Homo sapiens: one gene and its partners. The protein of the gene in region 1 interacts with the protein of each later gene in a biochemical or structural test. Each region holds a gene or a part of one and is shown on either strand. Other genes may lie near its edges.

What was found.
Region 2: the proteins of NR4A2 (region 1) and TCEAL5 form a complex in vitro, tested with the Homo sapiens proteins (one study listed by BioGRID).
Region 3: the proteins of NR4A2 (region 1) and BAZ1B form a complex in vitro, tested with the Homo sapiens proteins (one study listed by BioGRID).

What each region holds. Positions count from the first base shown.
Region 1 is NC_000002.12:156,323,932-156,329,828, forward strand, and holds the end of NR4A2 (nuclear receptor subfamily 4 group A member 2), read right to left. Parts: coding exon 5,392-5,897; intron 4,603-5,391; coding exon 4,473-4,602; intron 4,084-4,472; coding exon 3,920-4,083; intron 2,990-3,919; coding exon 2,787-2,989; intron 2,398-2,786; coding exon 2,219-2,397; exon of another isoform or gene 2,216-2,218; intron 2,070-2,215; coding exon 1,813-2,069; 3' UTR 506-1,812; downstream 1-505. UniProt on the Homo sapiens protein: Transcriptional regulator which is important for the differentiation and maintenance of meso-diencephalic dopaminergic (mdDA) neurons during development.
Region 2 is NC_000023.11:103,273,737-103,281,371, forward strand, and holds the start of TCEAL5 (transcription elongation factor A protein-like 5), read right to left. Parts: upstream 3,015-7,635; 5' UTR 2,937-3,014; intron 1,607-2,936; 5' UTR 1,539-1,606; intron 855-1,538; 5' UTR 828-854; coding exon 207-827; 3' UTR 1-206. UniProt on the Homo sapiens protein: May be involved in transcriptional regulation.
Region 3 is NC_000007.14:73,442,207-73,449,318, forward strand, and holds part of BAZ1B (tyrosine-protein kinase BAZ1B), read right to left. Parts: intron 5,174-7,112; coding exon 5,058-5,173; intron 1,924-5,057; coding exon 1,778-1,923; intron 623-1,777; coding exon 519-622; intron 348-518; coding exon 1-347. UniProt on the Homo sapiens protein: Atypical tyrosine-protein kinase that plays a central role in chromatin remodeling and acts as a transcription regulator. Involved in DNA damage response by phosphorylating 'Tyr-142' of histone H2AX (H2AXY142ph).

The DNA of each region.
Region 1 (5,897 bases):
GGCCCAAAGGGCCTGAACTGCTTTGCCCTTTCTCCATGACCCAACAGTTGTAAATTGAGAAATTGGAAAATCGGAGATTACATACAACACTCCTCAAATCCATGTTGACTTCTTGAGTCTTAAAAAGATACTTCCTAATCACTGTGCAAGACAAGTACTTGACTAGACTCTGACCTTGCTCAAGTTCAAAAGCTTTTGGGTCTCCAGAACTTCTCTCCTGAAAGCTACACTTACTTGCAAAGTTAACAGAAGAATTGAGATATTCTAAATTGATCCTAATAAATATTGGTCACCAGACTGGAAAATTCTGGTTAAGAAAAAATATTTTACTGAATTATCTGCATAATTATTCTGGTTCACCTGATTTCTTTTGCCAGAATAGATTTAGGCTGTTTAAAATTCAGATATTGAATAAGTGACCTATCCCAAATTAATCTCCAACTGTGTATGTTATGTTGCTGTTTAGTCATTATTTTTTCTGACCCAAAAAGAAGACAAAATTCTGTTCATTTACATGGTTTATTGTTGTAAACATTAAAATTGTCTTTCTCAAAGAAAGAATTTATCAGAAAAAAAATCAGCATCTCTAACTGTCATACACCATAGAAAAAAAGGCAGTGACTCATATCATGTGCCATACTAGAAATATACAAAGAAAAATACTACAGAATATGGCAATATTAAAATTCTTACTCAAACAAAATAATAAATTAACTGACAATTTTAGACATAAAAAAAATTCAAAGTGCTCAGTTATTTCCAGGGAGTTATGTATATTATAAGCACTCTGGAAACAGTCAAAAGCTGCTGCATGCAAGTTTTGTTTAGCTTTAGACAACAAAATAATCAAGATATAAACTTTCTTTTTATCAACATCAACGGTACATACAACACTTACAAACAAGGAATGTTGGACGGTGTTACAAACACTATGTGTCCCTTTTGTCAGGATTTTCTGATGTGTAATACTTGTGCCCACCTATTTTACAATTGAGAAAATGTTTAAGCTCAGATAACTACCAATCTTTATAAAATCTAACAGACTACATAGTGTCTGAAATACTATTTATATAATATAGACATTACTGAAGTAGCAAGTGCCTATAACATTTTCAACCTAGAATCAACATGCTTGTCCCTTTTTTATGTATTTATTTTCTTTTTTTTTGCAAACACACTTATCTTTTAGAATTTGTAATATTTATTCATAAATAGGCACAAAATAATTTAAAAAGCCAAACTGCATTGGGTAAATTTACAAGCCTTTGCCTTCTTCAACTCATGCCACCCACGCAACATTTAGTTTTACTATATATTACAGCTTTCTTTACAGCAGAAAACTTTGAAGTCTTGTTAAAGGGCAATACTTGTGGGTCCCCTTAAGATGTGTCTCTGTGTGTGTGTGTGTGTGTGTATGTGTGTGTGTGTTACATTTGTCTGAACTGCAACAACCAAGCATGGCCAAACATTTCCCATTATACATTATAGCAATCTTTCTTCTGAACAACAAACTGATTTTTAAACTGAGAATAAAAAGTTTATACCACTGTATTGTGTGTAGTCCATGTTCTAAATCCAGGATGCCCCGGAGCCAAAATGCCCTTTCAGGTTCTGCCTGCAGGTTAGGAAATAGCAACAGTTTTTGTTTGTTTGTTTGTTTTCTTTAGGGATCAAGGGGGCTAGGAGGGTTACAGAAATGGGGGGCAGCTTGAGCTGAGACTGCTCACACGGCTATCTCTGCCCATGTGACTTGCCCCCTCTTGACAGTTTCCATTATCATTCCAGTTCCTTTGAAGTGCTTGGGAGGAGGTCTTAGAAAGGTAAAGTGTCCAGGAAAAGTTTGTCAATTATTGCTGGCGGTGGCACCAAGTCTTCCAATTTCAGGTAGAAAATGCGCTGTAGCCCCTGTGTGCAAAGGGTACGAAGTTCTGGGAGCTTCCCCAACAGTTTGGACAAATAATTGGGGCGGTTCAACCCCCCATTGTTGAAAGTCACGTGGTCTTTGAGACAATTTACAATCTTGTTTTGCAGTTCTTCCACTCTCTTGGGTTCCTTGAGCCCGTGTCTCTCTGCAGAAAACATAATCAGAAACAAAAGAAGAATGTACAAGACAGTTAGCTAGTTGGCAAAACCAAGGAGAATCTGTGACAAGGGAAACTCAGGACAAATCCTGCTAGGCAGTTCTGGAGGGGAAGCGCCCTGCGCCTGCAGTACTGACCTGTGACCATAGCCAGGGCAGCAATGCAGGAGAAGGCAGAAATGTCGATGTTCATATTCTGCAAGTTGGAGGAGAATTCAACAATGGAATCAATCCATTCCCCAAAGCCACGAACGCATTGCAACCTGTGCAAGACCACCCCATTGCAAAAGATGAGTTTACCCTCCACTGGGTTGGACCTGCAATTAATACCAAAGAGAGAGAGGGGAGAAAAAGAGAGAGAGAAAAGCTAAACAACTAATTACTTGAAGAGCAATAAATGAGGGATTTAAGAGTCACCTAATTACTGAAGAGTTAATAAAATGTAGACCAGTGGACCTTGAAAGGGTTTAATTTCATAACAATCAAGAACGCCCCCTATCCCACCTCCATTCCATTCATCCAAGGCTTCTGGGCTCGCTTCTTCTCGTCTTTTTTTGTTTTCTTTCTTTTTCTTCCTTTCTCCGACTTCCATTTCCTATTCTGTCTTTTTCTCTACCCCACCCTCTGGTTTCCCTTCCTCCCTTTCTTTTCCTTTCTTGATTTCTCTCACAGCCTCCCTGGATTGTCTCCCTCCCTCCCTTATTACCTGTATGCTAATCGAAGGACAAACAGTTCTAAGAAAGCTGATTCAAAAAGCAGGTCTTGGTCGGCTTTGGGCAGGTCTGCGAAGCCAGGGATCTTCTCTGCCCAGCCCCGGATGATCTCCATGGAGCCAGTCAGGAGATCATAGAATTGCTGGATATGCTGGGTGTCATCTCCACTCATTTGATAGTCAGGGTTCGCCTGGAACTGGAATTTCATTTTAAAAAGCACTTAATGAGGTTCTCTAAAATATATAACCCGTGAAATTGCTAACCCCGTTTCTAATAGGGGAGCCAGGTTTTTATAACAATTAAACCTCTCTCTGACCAGTAAGGAAATTAGATGTTCCGGGGCAATTAATTCAATTAGGGATGGTGCTACGAGGTCGCTGCTTTAAATATGTAAATTGCCATTTCCATACAGACTAAATACAGTGCCATCCAGCCCTGGGAAACGTTCACTCTTATCTCCACAAAACAATTGACATGTTAGTATTCATGCTAGTCCCAGAGTGGGCCTCGAGCTGAGACGCCCTTTTGCAAATCTTAATAAAATTGCAGTCCCTACCAGGTTTGCTCAACATACTTCCTCCAATTAAAGCCCGCATATTTTTCACAGCTGGAGTAAAAAGGATCTGACCACTTGATCCCCCACCCCACTGGCATTCTTTACACCCTCTCCTTCCCTTCCCTGACCCCCAGACAGGCCCCCACATCCTTCCCCAGCACAGTGCCAGGAAGGATGAGGATTAAAGCATCTATCTCTATGGAGGACTGGGAATAAAGTAGATTGGGAAGGGGGAGAGTTTGCACAGCCCCTGGATTTCATGGTAGAGGCACTGGTGTATATGGAAGAGGAGGGGCGATGGGGTAGTGGGGTAGTGGGAATTCACACAGCTTCAAACCCTGTGGCGTGTCCCTCTCCTCCTTCCTCCATCCTGTCCTCATGTCTATGCCCCCAGCTACATGGATTGTCTGAAGATCTGAATCTTGAGGCCCTGGCCAGAGCTGCGAGGCATATACAGCCTTGCTTGCCTTCTTTACCCCCGTTGAATCTGAGAGTTAATGACGGATGTGGGGAGGGGTCCTGCCCATCTGTCGGTTTGTCCACATGATATCCCCCCCGCCAGCTTCTTACCCTGGAATAGTCCAGGCTGGTCATAGCCGGGTTGGAGTCGACATGGGCCCTGACGAGGGCACTGATCAGACTCACCGGGGGCGAAGGGGGAGAGGGCTCCTGTGGGCTCTTCGGTTTCGAGGGCAAACGACCTCTCCGGCCTTTTAAACTGTCTGTGCGAACCACTGCAAAGGAAGAGCCCTGTTAGCGCCGCTTTTCCGAGCCCAGGCCCAGCTGCTGCCTCGGTCCCTCCCCGGGGAAGGCCGCAGCCGCGGGGCACCAGGCTGAGCGGCTGAGGGCCCCAGTGCTTGTAAAGCCTTCACTGACTAGAAGCATTAAAAAATGCGGGGTTATTTTATGTCTTCCTCCAAATGGGTCGTATAGTTAAAGGAGAGAAGGGCCTGGCGGCTTTCTCTAGGGAAGGCCGGGCAAGCAGGCAGCTGCAGGGTCCTGGAGGCCATACTGAGGGGGAGTCGGAGATCCCCAGCACCGGGAAGTGGAACGTGATGCTGGAGTATGAGCAGTGGTTTCCTAAAGGCGCAAACTGGAGGGTCGGCAGCTCCCCTCAGCCTACCTTCTTTGACCATCCCAACAGCCAGGCACTTCTGAAATCGGCAGTACTGACAGCGATTCCGGCGACGCTTGTCCACTGGGCAGTTTTTATTTGCTAAACACACGTATTTTGCATTTTTTTGCACTGTGCGCTGCAAAAGGAGACAATATAGACCAACATTTTTTTTCTTCTTTTGAAAATCAGGCAACTCGGAGAAAATTTCTGTTATGTGACTGGGGTCTACGATTCCTCCCCACAAACAAACACATACACACAATTCCATTTTATTTTTTTCTCTTCCTTTTCTTTCTTTCTTTTCTTTTTTCCTCCCCCAGGGCATTTAACAGAAGAAAATTGATAGCGTTAACATTTGAGCTAACCTTGCCGCTCCTTGCTGTGTTTTATATGCCAAGAGAAGGAGAAGGAGACGCTCAGTAAATACAAATCCGTGGGCATTCATATTATTTACATTCCTTGGAGACCTTCTCTATTTAAAATGATAAGATTATTCAATCAGGATGGCGAAATAAAGAGATCACTTAATTTGACCATAGGGAATTCTGTTCCACTTGGTTAGCTCAGACACGGTTCTCTGTCCTAACCAATTTCATTCTGAACAGGGAAGACAGCTCCTAGCACATGCAAATGACCCTCTTCCAACTCCGGCTCCAGCAACTTCGGGCGGGGGCCAGCCGGGTCGGCTGAATGCGAGGGGGATGCGACCCTGGCCTCCCAGTCTTTCTGCTTCCCTTTCTCAGACACCCGGAAGTCCCCGCCGCAGCCCATGGTCTCCTGCAGGGCAGCTTCGGCGGACCCCGGAGAGCTGGGCAGTCCCGGGAGAGCTGGGGCTGGGCTACTGGCACCAAGGCAGAGGGCACACTCCGAGGTCCCGGGCACTAGGGGCTCCCTACCTGCCTACTCCGCTCCCGCCATTGCTCACCTTAAAGAAGCCTTTGCAGCCCTCACAGGTGCGCACGCCGTAGTGTTGGCAGGCCGCGTTGTCCCCACACACAGCGCACAGCCCCTCGTTGGAGGGGGAGCCCCGCGACGGCGGTGAGGGCACCTGCGTGTCGAGCAGCTGAGACGCGTGGCCGATCTGCAGGCCCGGGAAGCCCATGGACGCGGGCTTGCGAATGGGGTTGGGCACAGCGAAGGTCTGCCCGTCCACCACGTGGTGGCTGCCGGCGGGCTCCGGGTTCATGGGGACGTGCAGGGGCCCGTCGAAGCGCATCTGGCAACTAGACACCGGGGTGCCAGGGGGCGATTGCTTAAAGGAGAAGAGGGAGAGGCGGGAGACTGGCGTTTTCCTCTGCTCGATCATGTGCGTAGTGGCCACGTAGTTCTGGTGGAAGTTGTGGAGAGATCCCGGGTCGTCCCACATGGGGCTGTGCTGCACCTGGAAGCCCGGGGTGGTGGGCGTCGGGGGCGAGGAGGGCTTGTAGTAAA
Region 2 (7,635 bases), on another chromosome or scaffold:
GAACATTTATTCCATGCACATGGGTGAAAATCCTCTACTAAAAGACAGAGCACTGTAGTTGGGTCAAAAGTCTGCTGGTAACAAGAGTGACACCTAAAGGAAAGTATCAGCTTAAGGTTAAAGCACATAGGCCGGCAAATGCCTGCCAGGAAAAGCAGGACTGGCAATATTCCCATCAGAGAAATCAGAATTAAAGGCCAAAGACATTAAACATATGGGACATCTTCTAAGTCTTTCTGGCCCCTACCTCCGCCCCTCACTCCCCTCACACCCCGTTGGCCCCTTGGGGCGAATGGATCCTGTACATCTCTTTGCATCCAATGAAAACCACCCATTTTCTGTTTTTTCCTTAGCTCCTCCTGAGCCCTTGACACATCTCCACATTCTCTCATCATCTCCTCACTGCTCAGATGCCTTTCTTGTAAGTCCTCCTGAGAGTCCTTGGGGGAATCGTCCGTCCCCCTGTCGGTTTTTCTTTTTGCTTTCCGGGGCACATAATCTTCAGCCGGGCGCTTTTCGGCGGCCCGCGGCTGGCTCTCTGGCTTGGCCTGGGAGGCTGGCTTGCCCTCACTTTGTGGCTTGTCCTCACCTTCAGACTTGCCCTGCTTTTCCTGGTTTCCCTCATCTTCCAGTTGTCCCTCATCACCTGGCTCTCCCTCATCCTCTCGCTTTCCCTCGCATTCTGTCTTCCCCTCCATGTCCGGCTTTTCTTCCTCGTCTGACTTTCCTTCATCTTCTGTACTTCCCTCATCCTCTGGCTTTCCCTCACTTTCTAGGTTTCTTTCATTCTCTGGCTTTCCTTCATTTTCTTTGTAGAGCTTTTCCATGTTGAGATGTTCCCTTCTTTGCCTTTCCTAGGAGACAAAAAGAAGACACAGGACACTGAGGGCTTTGGGGGTTGAACACAGGTCCTTATAGTACTTGTCTTTCTTAACTTAGGGTTTTCCTGGCCCTATCCCATCTTCCAGGTGCACTCCCACCCTTACATTCCTTCCTTTCCTTTTCACTTTACACATGTTCACACAAGCCAACCTTACAGAAACTTCCACAGGTGCTTCTCCCTACATTTAAGGAGGATGTGCTGAGAAATGCGTAGGAGCATATTGGCCCTTAAACTTTGCTCTGGCCTTGGCTATGCCTACCCATACCAATTTTAACTGGGTAGTTCCAATTTACACGGACCTGCAGAAATCCTGGGCAGTTTTCTTCTTTTTCCCCTTGCATGCAGTTGTAAGACTTATAAAACTGCAGACAGAACAGAACCATAGCCAGTTCTCAGATTTCAGGGCTACCCTTATGTCCTCAGGGGGCATCACAGATGCTACACCTCCATTCTCTTACTTTCTTATTCTCCCCTCTATCCTCACCAGCCATAGATCACCATATCCCCTTAGGGTCTTGACAGCAGTCATGTATCCCGAAACTGCAAGAGGGAGGATTGGAGGAGGGGTGGCAGGCAGTGGCCTCCCCAACTTCTGCTCTGGCTTAAGTTACTCCTACTCCCAAGGGTCCTGGTGCAGTAGCCCTCTCCCACTGACCTGCACCGATACTGCAGGTCTTTCCTTTTCTTGTCTGGGTTAGTGCCCACAACCACAGACTTGAAGACCTGCAGAAAGACAAGAAACAGGTGGGTGAATGAGAAATTGAGAAAGTGAATGACTGGTAACTTGGACACTGGTTCTTTGGGACCGTATTTGTCAAAACTTTCCGAGCTCCTATCACCTCCTCGCCTTTTCCCTTGCATTCTCTGATTCCCCCTCCGCGCGCAGCTCTTTCTTAAGAGCCTCCATTGTTCTACTTGTGGGAAATAGGCGAGAAAGATTATTTCCAAAGCGTTTCTATGTTTCTGAATCTTCCTCCCAAATTTTTATCTCACTTTTCTGGCACGAAAATGAGTAGGGTTAGAGACAAGGATGTTCTGAAGACAGAGTGTTCTGATGCACTCAGATCTCTACATTCCAAATCCCTCACCCTAGGGTAGCCAAATAGCAGAGCCCACCACTTCTCTGAAAATGGTGATGACAGAGATAGGGGGCAGGGCAGAAATGTCCAAAACACTCCTGCCACCTCCTCCCTCCCCACATACACAGAAAGCCCACATTTTTCTGCAATGCAAGAGACAAATTATTTCCAAACCCGGTAACATTTTTGGTCTTGCTGCTACCTCATCTCAATCCTCCTACTTCAGAAGCCACTCCTCCTGGATAGGGAGCTGATCCCCAGATCAAACCTCTGTCTCCCTTTTTCTACAGCACCTCCTTCCCCTGACCCCCTTAGCCCACCGTTTCCGGCTCCAAAATGGAGGGAGGTTGGAGAAAAGACACAGGGAACTCAGGCCTGGACCCGTTGCAGGGTCCGCCCTCAGCAGCCTGGGGTCACTGACTGTGCCCGCCTCCCGCTGCCTTGCAGGGATCAGGCCGTTTTCTCGCCGTTTCGTCGCTGTTCTCTTCCCTGGTCCTCCTCCTCCTCCATCAGACATCACCCGGTCGCCGGCTTCCTAGGAGTTCCCAACTGGTACCCAATTCTCAACCCTTGACCTCTCTCGAGTTCCGCCCCCCTCCCCCCTCCCCGCCCCGCACCAAGCCCTCCATTTCTTGCACCAAATGAGTGAGCATCGGGAAAGGAGTGGAGAGAATCCAGTCCTGGACCCGCTCTGGTCTTTGCCCTCTGCCATCCCAACCACAGGGATCCACAGGCTGTGGATGGGTTCGTAGCCATCTCGGGGAAATGACTCTTTCTCACATTTCCTTCTGCCAGAAGCCTGCACTTCTCCAGGGAAATAAAAGCTGGTACCCATACCTCTTGCCCAACACAAAAAAATTTCTGCGCCAAAATGAATGGGGGTGGAACAGGGCGGTATCTAGAAAGCAGATCCGATCCTCTGTAGCCTATGTGCATTACCATCCCTACCTCAGGGGTCCCCGGCTTGTACCGACCTGCAGGGCTGTAGGGCAGTTGCCTTCTCTGTCCTTCAGTCTGAAGTCTGCCTTCCTCCACGGAAACAGGGATCTGGTACCTGGAGGAGAGGGACTTCTGCACACGTCGGCTTCAGATCACGTGAGAAAAACGTCACCAGTGGGCTCGGGTCCCTAGTTCCCCTCCCACCCGCAGAAAGTGCGTCAGGAGCCAGCCCACTTCTTCCCTTCACTAGTCTGTCCGTCTGAGCGCCCTCAGCACCCCCAACCCCGGCTTAGCTCTCTCTCTCGCCCCACAGCACGGGGCCCTGTCACTCATTTTGGTCTTTGCTAATCCCACAGGTCAAATGTGGCCCTTTCTCTGTGTAGTATGTATTTATTCTTCCGTGGTTATCAGGGAGGGACCGCACCTTCTTCTAGAGCTATTGGCCATTGGTACATCTCAGAGGAATTTTTTTTCTTTCTCTCCTTTTATCCGAAGGCACCTACTCGATCTAATTCTACACGCAGCCACTGATGTTCATTCTGCCTGTGAACCAGACCTTCTCATAATGGGTACAAGGTGGATTGTCAAGTAGGGACACAAGTAGTTAAAATAGGGGTTTTATTTTTTTAAATTTTTTTGATCTTATTTAATTCACTCTCCTCAGCATGGGTTATTCTTATAAGCACAAAATTAAATAAAGCTATTTCATTTATGAGAAAGTGTTTAAGAGAGAGAAAAACTTAAAAGATTTCAAAATTTTCTACTCAGAAGAGAGACCAAATTAGGTTCATAATATTAACTTTTGCCATATACACAAGGAATTCAATTGGCAACAAGCAAAATATACATTAGAAATTTTTCATAAATAGCTGGTTCTCTCACGTTCTATTTAACACACACACACACACACACACACACACACACACACACACACACACACATTTAATGTTCCCAAACGATTACTGAGTGCTAAATAGACTTGCTGGAATCTGATGGTTGAAAGAAAATTCAAAAATGTCTCTTTAAAAAATTTGGCTCATGGCTATTTTCATTCAAATGTTTAGCTCTAGGGGAAGGGAAGAGCTGTGAGACCAAGGCTGCAGGAGATGTGAAGGATGCAGAAATGGTCCTATCCTCCCTGCCCTGCCAAGATCAGGGGAAGGTGTTCTTCTCCACCCCCTCATATTCTAGAATTTCTCATCCCCTGCATTTCTCATCCCCAGGCACATGACTCTGTTGCTCAAGAGTCATCTGTCCAAGAATATAACTGGACAGGTGACCAAGGTGGTGATATGAGTAAATGCCTTTGGCTCCTTCCCTCCTCCCTCCCCCTAATTCCCACAGGGATAACCCAGCCCCAGCACAGAGTGGAGCATTGTTCATGCCTCTAGAAAACTAGAACAGATCTCTTCTAGACCCTTGCAGCTGAGGGTGTTCATGAGGCCTGAAGTGATTGCTGGGGTAGAGTCCCCTGCAACCTGCCTGCTCTCTGCCCTTATTCACAGTGCCTGAGTGGAAGCCTCCCTAGACCCTGTCTGTTACCTCCCGCCTAGCCTAAAAAGTGCAGTCTGGCGGGCCTCTCACCCCCAAACTCTGTATCTTCAGGGAACCCAGAGGGAGCCTAACCTTGCTGCAGGATTGCTGCCTGCCAGTCCATACTAACCTATGACTGTCTCAGCAAATTTAGGCCAGTGTCTAAGGAGTTCTGCCATGCTGTCCATATTGACCTAGACCAAGTATTCCCAATTGATGAAGTCTGTGGGCCACCTGAAAGGGCATGTAAAATTGCATATGTTTAGGAAGTAGTGGAGTATGCACACTCTTGTGAGAAGAAGATCTGTACCCTAGGAGCCTGAATAGTGTTTTGTTCTATTTGCACACCCCATTCTGTTTATCCATCATATGTTGATGAATATTTAGGCATTTTCATCTTTTAGCTGTTATAAATAATGCTGCCATATACAATCACGTATAAGTTTTTGTGTGGATGTATGTTTTTATTTTATATAAGCAAGTTGACATCATGAAAAAGAGGAAACCATAAAGGACAGAAAGAAGAAGCTACTTGACAAAGAGATAAGAAGGGGAAGACACAAATAGCAGCTGAGCCATGTTAAAGAGAGCTCATCTATTCCTTGGGTTCAGGCATTATTAAACTATGAATCCCCTAAAATTATGTTCAAACTTGTGTGTGTGTGTGTGTGTGTGTGTGTGTGTGTGGTCGTGGTTTCACTCTGTTGTCCAGACTAGAGTCCAGTGGTGCATTTATAGTTCACTGTAGCCTTCAACTCCTGGGCTAAAGGGATCTTCTCACCTCAGCCTTCTGAGTAACTGGGACTACTGGTGCACGCCACAACTCCCAGCTAATTTCTTTAAATTTTTGTACAGACAGTGTCTCCCTACATTGCCCAGGTTGGTCTCCAATTCTTGACCTCAAGTGAGCCCCCTGCCTCAGCCTCCCGAAGCACTGGGATTACAGGCATGAGCTGCCGCACCCAGGCTGGATATATACATTTTTATTGTATGTGCACATTTGCTGAGAATAGGTTCCGTTGCTCTCATTAGATGTTCAAAGGGGTATGTAATATTAAAAAGATGAAGGCCATTGACCCAAAGAATATACTTCTGTATACATTTTTTTCAAATCGTGCTATCTTTATTCTCTATTTAAAAGAGAAATTCACATAACATAGAATTAACCATTTTAAAGTGTACAGTTCAGTGACATGTATAGTACACTCAAAATATTGTGTAACCATCCCCTCTATTTAGTTCCAAAACAGTTTCATCAATCTGAAAAGAGACCCCATACCCATTAAGCAGTCATTCTCAATTCCCTTTTCCCCCTAGTCCCTAGCAATGACTTATCTGCTTTCCATCTTTATGAACTTACCTATTCTAGATATTTCCCATAAATGGAATTGTACAATATGTGACCTTTTGTGTCTGGCTTCTTTCACTTAGCATAATGTTTTCAAGGTTCATCTACATTGTAGCATGTGCAATACTTCATTCCTTTTTATGAATTAATATTTCATTTTATGTGCATACCACACTCTGTTTATCCATTTGTATGTTGATAGATATTTGGATTGTTTTTGCCTTTTGGCTGTTATAAATAATGCTACCATAAACAATTATGTATAAGTTTTTGTGTGGGTGTATGTCTTTACTTCTCTTGCATATATAGCTAGGAGTGTAATCATTGGGTCATATGGTAATTCTATGTTTAAATTTTTGAGAAACCGCCAAACTGTGTTCCACAGTAACTGCAACATTTTGCATTCCTATCAGCAAGACTCCAATTTTACCATATCCTTGCAAACAATTGTTAATTTCTATTTTTTATGTTTATCATCCTAGTGGGAGAGAAGTGGTTTTGATTTGCATTTTCTTAATGACCCATGATGTTGAGTATCTTTTCTTGGGTTTGTTGGATATTCGTATATTTCCTTTGGAGAAATATCTATTCAAGTGCTTTGCCAATTTTTATTTTTTATTTTTTAAATTTTATGTTAGGTTTGGGGACACATGTGCAGGTTTGTTTCATAGGTAAATTGCATGTCACAGGGGCTTGGTATACACTTTATTTCATCAGCCAAATAATAATCATAGTACCTAATATGTAGTTTTTTAATCCTCATCCTCCTCCCATCCTCCACCCTCAAGTAGGTCCCAATATCTATTGTTCCCTTCTTTGTGTTCAGGAGTTCTCATCATTTAGCTCCCACTTGTAAGTGAGAACATCTGGTATTTGGTTTTCTGTTCCTGCATTAGTTTGCTGAGGATAATAGCCTCCAGCTCCATCCATATTCCTGCAAAATACATGATCTTGTTCTTTTTTTATGGTTGCATAGTATTCCGTGATGTATATGTACTATATTTTCTTTATCCAATCTGTCATTGATGGACATTTAGGTTGATTCCATGTCTTTGCTATTGTGAATAGTGCTGCAGTGAACATTCGTGTGTATATGCCTTTATGGTAGAATGATTTACATTCCTCTGGGTGTATACCCAGTAATGGAATTGCTGGGTCAAATGGTAGTTCTGTTTTTAACTCTTACGGGAATCGACACACTGCTTTCCACAGTGATATTGAGCTTGCATGTATGTCTTCTTTTGAAGTGTCTGTTCATGTCCTTTGCCCACTTTTTAATGGGGTTGTTTTTCCTCTTGCAAATTTGTTTAAGTCCCTTATACTTGCTCGATATTAGACCTTTGTCAGATGCATAGTTTGCTAATATTTTCTCCCATTCTGTAGGTTGTCTGTTTATTCTGTTGATAGTTTCTTTTGCCATACACAAGCTCCTATGTTTAATTAAATCTCGTTTGTCAATTTTTGCTCTTGATGCAATTGCTTTTGGTGTCTTTGTCATGACACCTGTGCCCATTTCTATGTCCAGGATGGTGTTGTCTAGGTTGTCTTCCAGGGTTTTTATAGTTTTGGGTTTTACATTTAAGTCTTTAATCCATCTTGAGTTGATTTTTGTATATGTTGTAAGGAAGCAGGGATCCAGTCTCAATCTTCTGCATATCCTTACCCATTTTTTAATTAGGTTGTTTGGCTTTTTGTTGTTGAGTTGTAATAGTTCTTATATATTCTGGATATTAGTTCCTTATTTGATATATGGTTTGTAGATATTTCCTCCCATTCTATAGGTTCTCTTTCACTTTCTTAATAGTGTCCTTTTATGCACAAAAGTTTTTCATTTTGAAGAAGTCCAATTCATC
Region 3 (7,112 bases), on another chromosome or scaffold:
GTCTTCGTCCCCTGGACTGTCCAACGGCCTCTGGCTCACTGTCCCCTTCATCTTCAGCAAGCCTATCAGGAAACTTCTTGCGCTTCCTGCGGACATATGGGTGGCCAGGAAGGTGTTTATGCAACAGAGCCACTAGACACTGTTCTGTCTTCACCATGCAGCTTAGCACATGGCTGCCACGGCAGTTGTAAACCTCAGCATTGGTAAACACTTGCTTCATGTCAGTAAGAAACTCCTGCACAGAGCGGTAGCTCCCACAGGAACATTTGTTCTGCACTGTCTGAAAGTCCATGGGGTGCGTGATCACATCATAGTAGTCCTCGGCCTCATCTCTGGTCACAGGCTCCCTGTGGAGAAGAACCAAATGGAGAATCTGCACAGCCTTGACGGCAGTGCCCCTGCCACTGAGACACGTCCTGAAAAGCAAGGGCTTGGCTGAGAGCCCCTCAGGGGCTCTGGAAGCTTTTAGAACCAGCCAGGCCACTCCTCTCCCCTGCACCTGAGAACACAGCACTCACCTGAAGGGCCAGCTGAAGCGGTACTTCACGATCTTGTGGAGGATCTCTTCACACTTCTGCAGCTCCAGGCTTTGCCTCCGGGAGCTCCGCTTGGTCTGAAGCACCTGGCAGGAAAGAAAGAACAATGTTATTACAGATTCAAGACAGGAGGAAGAATGGACAGGGCAGAAAATAAGTGTATCTGCTCAAAAAAGGAAGAGAGTTCAACTATTTCCTTGGCGCAGAGGTGCTGAAACCTTCTGATATTCAAGTCAGGGAGCACCCTCGGCCCAGGTGGCAGGCATCTTCCCAGTAGTCCACTCACTCGCCTCCCCCGGGGCCACGGCAATCAAAGCAGCAAAGAGCAGGCAGCGGGGGCCGCCTTTACCAGCAGTCCTGCTGGAGGTCGGCTGAAGGGGGCTACTGTCAACAGGACACTAGCTCTCAGAGAACAGGTGGACCTGGGGTTACAGTGACACCATGGAAGGGCATCAACAAGCCACTGCAGAAAGCAAAACATGCTATCTGGGCCAACAGCAGCCAATTCTGTGGGGGTGGGGTGCCTCTGGTAAGAAAAGCAAGAGGTCCAATTCCCTTCCTGGGCTCTTCCACCGTAGACATGTGAGGGTTAAGTGGCTAAAGAGAAAAGGGGCGGGGCCTCCATTCCAGGTAGCCATAACAAAAGCTGTGATTCACAGCAGAGGCCACAGAGCCCAAGGCTGTGGCAAACCGAGCATCTTCTAATGCCTTATGATCTCCCAAATGGCCTGCCTTAAGCCCCTAACTCCAATTTGATCTGTCAAAACAAGCACCTTTTCAAGAGTTTCTTTTTTGTTCTTTAAAGCTCAAGTGAGATCTAAAAACTACTAAAATTACATTGGTTAAGGAGCAGAGGGGAGGGTAATGTCCCTCCCATAACAACTGTCGACTCAACAGTAAGTGAGGCTCCAGCATTGCTGACATTCCCACAATGAAGACCCAGCCCCTCTGAGCCCACTGGAGACACATGGATACTATTTTTAAATCCTTAATAAGTTGCAGGCTGCCCGCTAACTAGTTTGCAGGCTACAGCAGGGGAATGCCGGACATAGCTGTTCCTGGAGGCCTTGCTGCTTCTGTCTGCGTACAGGCTCACCCATCTGCCTCCCCAGCCTCCCAAGTTTGGTAAGAAGGAGGAGGGGGGAGGCTCCCCTCCCACCTGTTGCCTGATGAATTCCTAATTGCTGGGGTAGGGAATAAGAAACAGAAAGGTTAGAGAAGGGATGATAAATAATTCTCACCAGCTCATCCACCTCAGCATCATCCACAGGTGGTGCCTTGGGCTGAGACCTCCTGGTAGAGTGTGGCTTCTTACCCGGGCGCCGGCCTGACCTTGCTGCAGGGGGGATGACGCTGTGCTTGCCCCGGATGGTCTTTCGAGGTCTCACTGAAAGAAAAACTATGGATTCAGCAGAGAACAACGGAAGGTGAAGGGAGGAGCATCTTCGAAATGGGGGAAAGGGATGCAGGGAGAATCCTTTTCCTGGACAAGGAAAGCAGTGGCCTCCTTTGGTTTTAAGGTGCTCTTGCTATTTTATCTTGCCTTACCTAACAGGACACTAAAAGGCAGTGGCAGCCGATGAAGAATGGGTGCCTTTCATCCACTGCCAAAGCCCTTCAGAGGGCTAGGTCCTTCAGTACTTCTGTCCTGCCCCGTCCTGCAGTTACTCCCAGCCATAAGGCCCCTGCAGGAATCAACTGTAAACTCTCACTCATGAGAAGCCATTTGCTAATAGGTCAGCCTGGATTTCCCACAGCCCAAGCTCAGCCTGAGCGAGTGGATGTATTTACATGTAAGATGGAACTGGATTGTAAAACAAACCCTATGTTGTAATTCCCAGAGTTATTCTACACTTACCATCAGAATCTTTCCAGAGAAAAGCTGGTACTTCCATGAAGGGCCACAAGGCTCCTCATTAAATACAATTTAGGGCTAGTCCCCTCCATAAGAGCCCTGCCCAGGATCCCCAATGAGAGAATAAAGAATATAGGCCGGGCGTTGTGGCTCACACATGTAATCCCACCACTTTAGGAGGCTGAGGCAGGTGGATCACCTGAGGTCGGGAGTTCAAGACCAGCCTGACCAACATGGTGAAACCCCGTCTCTACTAAAAATACAAAATTAGCAGGGCGTGGTGGCACATGCTGGTAATCCCAGCTACTCAGGAGGCTGAGGCAGGAAAATCGCTTGAACCTGGGAGGCGGAGGTTGCAGTGAGCCGAGATCACGCCACTGCACTCCAGCCTGGGAAACAAGGGTGTAACTCCATCTCACAAAAGAAAAAAAACACACACACACACACACACAAAGGCACTGAGACTACTTGTGTCTCAGGTTTACAACAGGTGCTCACCATCAAGCCAACTGGCATTCCTCAGTGAGCCCTGGGAAACAATGCCATGAGGATTTAGCTCCAGGCTCTCCACCACCTTCCCTTGGGGAGTGGGGAGATGACACTGGACACAGAGGTCTAGGAAGGCAGTGACACGAATAATCCAGAAACACTACTTTCCATTCTATTTCTGGATCACGATAACCCTTTCTTGGCTACTTTAGCGTCTCTAGCTCAAGCCCAGGCTAGTAAGAAAGGGTAAGAATCTGATGCTTAGGTGCTAGAACCTTGAGCTGCACTGGGGAACCACATCTTTGGTGGTCTGAAAGATAGAGTTGACAAAAAGCTCTGAAGTACCAAATACTTCCCAGATCCTTTTGGCAAGTCGAGGCCGTAAAAACTTAGAAAAGCAATTCCTTGGAAAGAGAGCTACAACGTAGAAGTGGAAAGCAATCACTAGCTTACAAATAAACAGAATCAGTATACTACCATATTCAGGATCTGCCCTCAGAGAGATCAGGCGCAGTGGCTCACACTTGTAATCCCAGCACTTCGGGAGGCCAAGGCAGGAGGATCACTTGAACCCAAGAGTTCAAGACCAGCCTGGGAAACATGGCAAGACCCTATCTCTACAAAAAAGCCGGGCATGGTGGCACGTGCCTGTAGTCCCAGCTGCTCAGGAGGCTGAGGTAAGGAGGATTGCTTAAGCCTGAGAGATCGAGGATACAGTGAGCAGTGATCATACCAGTGCACTCTAGCCTGGGCAACAGAGAAAGATACCCATCCCCCGCTCCGCCAAAAAAAATATGTTCCCAAACAAAGGTGTGCCCAAGTCACTGACTCTGACCAACAGAAGAGGATATTCCTGAATGCAGGACTGATGGGCCATTTGTTCACTTACCCTAGGATACCTGAAAAATCAGGCGTAGTGAACAAACAAAAAGAGCCCATACGTATGTGAGAGCTTAAGGTGTCCCACATCACACCTCTGAAGTATGGGGGGGAAAGTGGGAGGACAGGAGAAGACGGGCAAGCCCAAATCATTAGGTTTTGGCAGTCTCACTACAGTAAGAGACTAGTCATGCCAGGCATCCTCTCTCTCACTCCTTATACCAAGTATGACCATTCAGAGCTGCTATGATCTTGGGAACTGTACCACTGCTTCAAAAGCTCATTAGAATTTTGATCTGTGGTCTGTTTTCTACGAACCTGTAAAGAAAAGTGTATTGGCCGGGCATAGTGGCTTATGCCTGTAATCCCAGCACTTTGGGAGGCCAAGGCAGGCAGATCACTTGAGCTCAGGAGTTCGAGACCAGCCTGGCCAACATGGTGAAACTCCATCTCTACTAAAAATACAAAAATCAGCCAGGTGTGGTGGTGGGTGTCTGTATACTCGGGAGGCTGAGGCAGAGACTGAGGTAATCTGAGGTCATACCACTGCACTCCAGCCCAGGCGACAGTGAGACCATCTCAAAAAAAAAAAAAAAAAAAAAAAAGTGTATTTTGGAAAGAGGGAGGCTGCTAAAAGAAAGGCTAGACTGGAGGACATTAGCCACAAACACCAGACTCTCCAACACTCATGAGAAATGAACATGAGAGAATGAGAGTCAATGCGGTGAACACAAAAGATGATGCCTTTTTTCCTACTGGCATCTAGTGAGAACAGATCTGAATCTTCCTAACATCCTTCCACCTAAGCCTTCAAATAATCAGTCGTCTCTTTTCAAACCAGCAAAGCTATAACCCTGCACACTGCAGGGAGGAGAAAATCACTGTAACCAGACAGAAAAAGTCACTCTCTGAAAGCAGCGATAAAACAACAGCCAAAAGAACTGTCAGGAGATGGCAATGGGCCAAGATCTTCCTTCCCCATTGTCCCCATATGCCGAGGAGCTGAGAATCAGCAGCCTTGGCATAAATATACTTGGGACCATGAATTCTACTAAATCTTAGAGCAAGTGGGTTGATGTTACTGAGATCAAGCCACCTTCTCTCCCACCAGGCAGGAAGTTAAACGCCATCTTGGAAACCCATTTAAACCCATGGCAGCTAAGTTACGCCACAGTCACAACACAAGAGAAAAGGAATAGGGCAAGCCGGCCACACTACCTACTGCCAAGCCAGCCTTTCCAAGCGTTCCAAGCTTAGAAGACTGTGAAATCAACTACAAAGGCAGACAAAATACTTACATCGCAAACCAGCCACCTCATAATCTTCTTCCTCCTCCTCCTCTTCTTCCTCCTCCTCCTCTTCATCACTCTCATCATCTTCACTGTCCTCAGAAGCAGACTCTTCAGTATAGTTCCTGTGGGTAGAAAAAATAATGTAGGGAACACAGTTTTAGCCCAAAGTGGTCCTAAGAAGGGCTCAAATCCCACAGGGATCAGGAAACTTCTCTTCACAGACTACATATGTATAACGTATGATAATTCAGGGAGGGAACCTGAATGTAAGCCAGGAGAGTTTTTCATAAAAATGAAAAACCAAGTTTCAACAGCATGCCTCATGCCTCCTTCTGCCAGGCCACAGACAGTTTGGACAAGATACCAAAGGCAACAGAAATTAAGACCAAAATGCAATCCTACCCTTCCCCACACAAAGCAATACAAAACACTGTTTCTTTTGTCTCACAAAAAGAGCCAGATAATGTAATACATCAGTTACTAAAAGCTGTCCCCACCTCTGAGGTAGACTGAAAAGAATAAACAGAGCCCAGACAGGTGTGACTTCACCTTGATGGCCCCCTTCCAGGAGCTGAAACAGCTTGCAGATGACCATAATATCAAAGCAGTGGTAATCCCAGCTCGGAACAGCTGGTCCAAAGCCCCACCATTTCAGAGCAACATGTCTCATCTCTAAGTGCAGCTGGGATGGAGTGCAAAAGAACCTGCTAATACTGTTAAGGTGGGGTCAGGATCAAACAGCTCTGCCCCTTAGAAGGAAGCCCAGGCCGGGCACCGTGGCTCACGCCTGTAATCCCAGCACTTTGGGAGGCTGAGGCAGGCGGATCACCTAAGGTCGGGAGTTCGAGACTAGCCTGACCAACATGGAGAAACCCCATCTCTACTAAAAATACAAAATGAGCTGGGTGTGGTGGCGCATGCTTGTAGTCCTAGCTACTCGGGAGGCTGAGGCAGCAGAATCGCTTGAACCTGGGAGGTGGAAGTTACAGTGAGCCGAGATCGCGCCATCGTACTCCAGCCTGGGCAACAAGAGCGAAACTCCGTCTCAAAAAAGAAGCCCAAGCCAGAGTACCTATAAGCTGCACATTTTACAACCCCAAATTTCAGTGTGGAAAACAACAGTATTATCTTGGCAAGTACAAGGTGTCTCCTCTTTACAAGGCCCGGTATTTGGCCTTATTGAGATTCAAGTAAAAAAACAAAGCACCACCTCTACTCTCAGGGCATTCATAATCTCATGGGAGACAGACATGTATAAAACCAGAGACAAGATCCATGCACCAAAATACTACTTCAGAGAATGGAGGTTCAGCTGAACACAGAGGAGAAACCATGAAGCCTAAGGATGCAAGCACTTTTCAAAAGCGCAGTGAAATTTTAGCGAAGCCATGGGCAGTTTACCCACTGGGAATTCTGGGCAGAGAATGTTCCCAGCTGGGAGAAAGGCACAAGAGGCAAGGATGAACAACAAACGGTCTGTAACAAGTACACAAATATGGGATCTAAAGCTAATAAAAACCCAAGCTGGTATTGTGTAAGAGTCTCAGAAGTGAGGCCAGGAATTGGGATGTTATTCTAGAGGCAATGGGAAGACTAGAAGTTTGTGATCAGGAATGTGAGCAGATCTTTGCTTTGTGTACAGCATTCTGGTGTTGCAATAGTTGGGTGGATAAGAGGGGAGAAGACGTGATATAAGAAAGAGGAGTTGAGAAGCCACCAAAGGAGCCCAGGTGACAGATGTAGAAGGGACAAATGATAGCGGAGACCACGGAGAATGGAGAGCAAGAAACTGGATCATCAAACATCTGGGCATTGGATTGATATCATGGCAAATTAATGGGTTTGTAGGATGAGGGAGAGATGTTCATTTCCAAGTTGACACCCAAGTTCTACTCATGATAGGGAAGAAAACATTATGTATCGGTAAGGAAGGTAATGAGTGTGAGATTTTTAGCAGTGGGTGATAGCAGAAGTAATCATGAAGACACAGGAAGTGGGCAACAGGAGGCTAAAGGCAGAGAGAGAGATTTCATTACTTGAGAAGAAGGTATGATCAAGAAG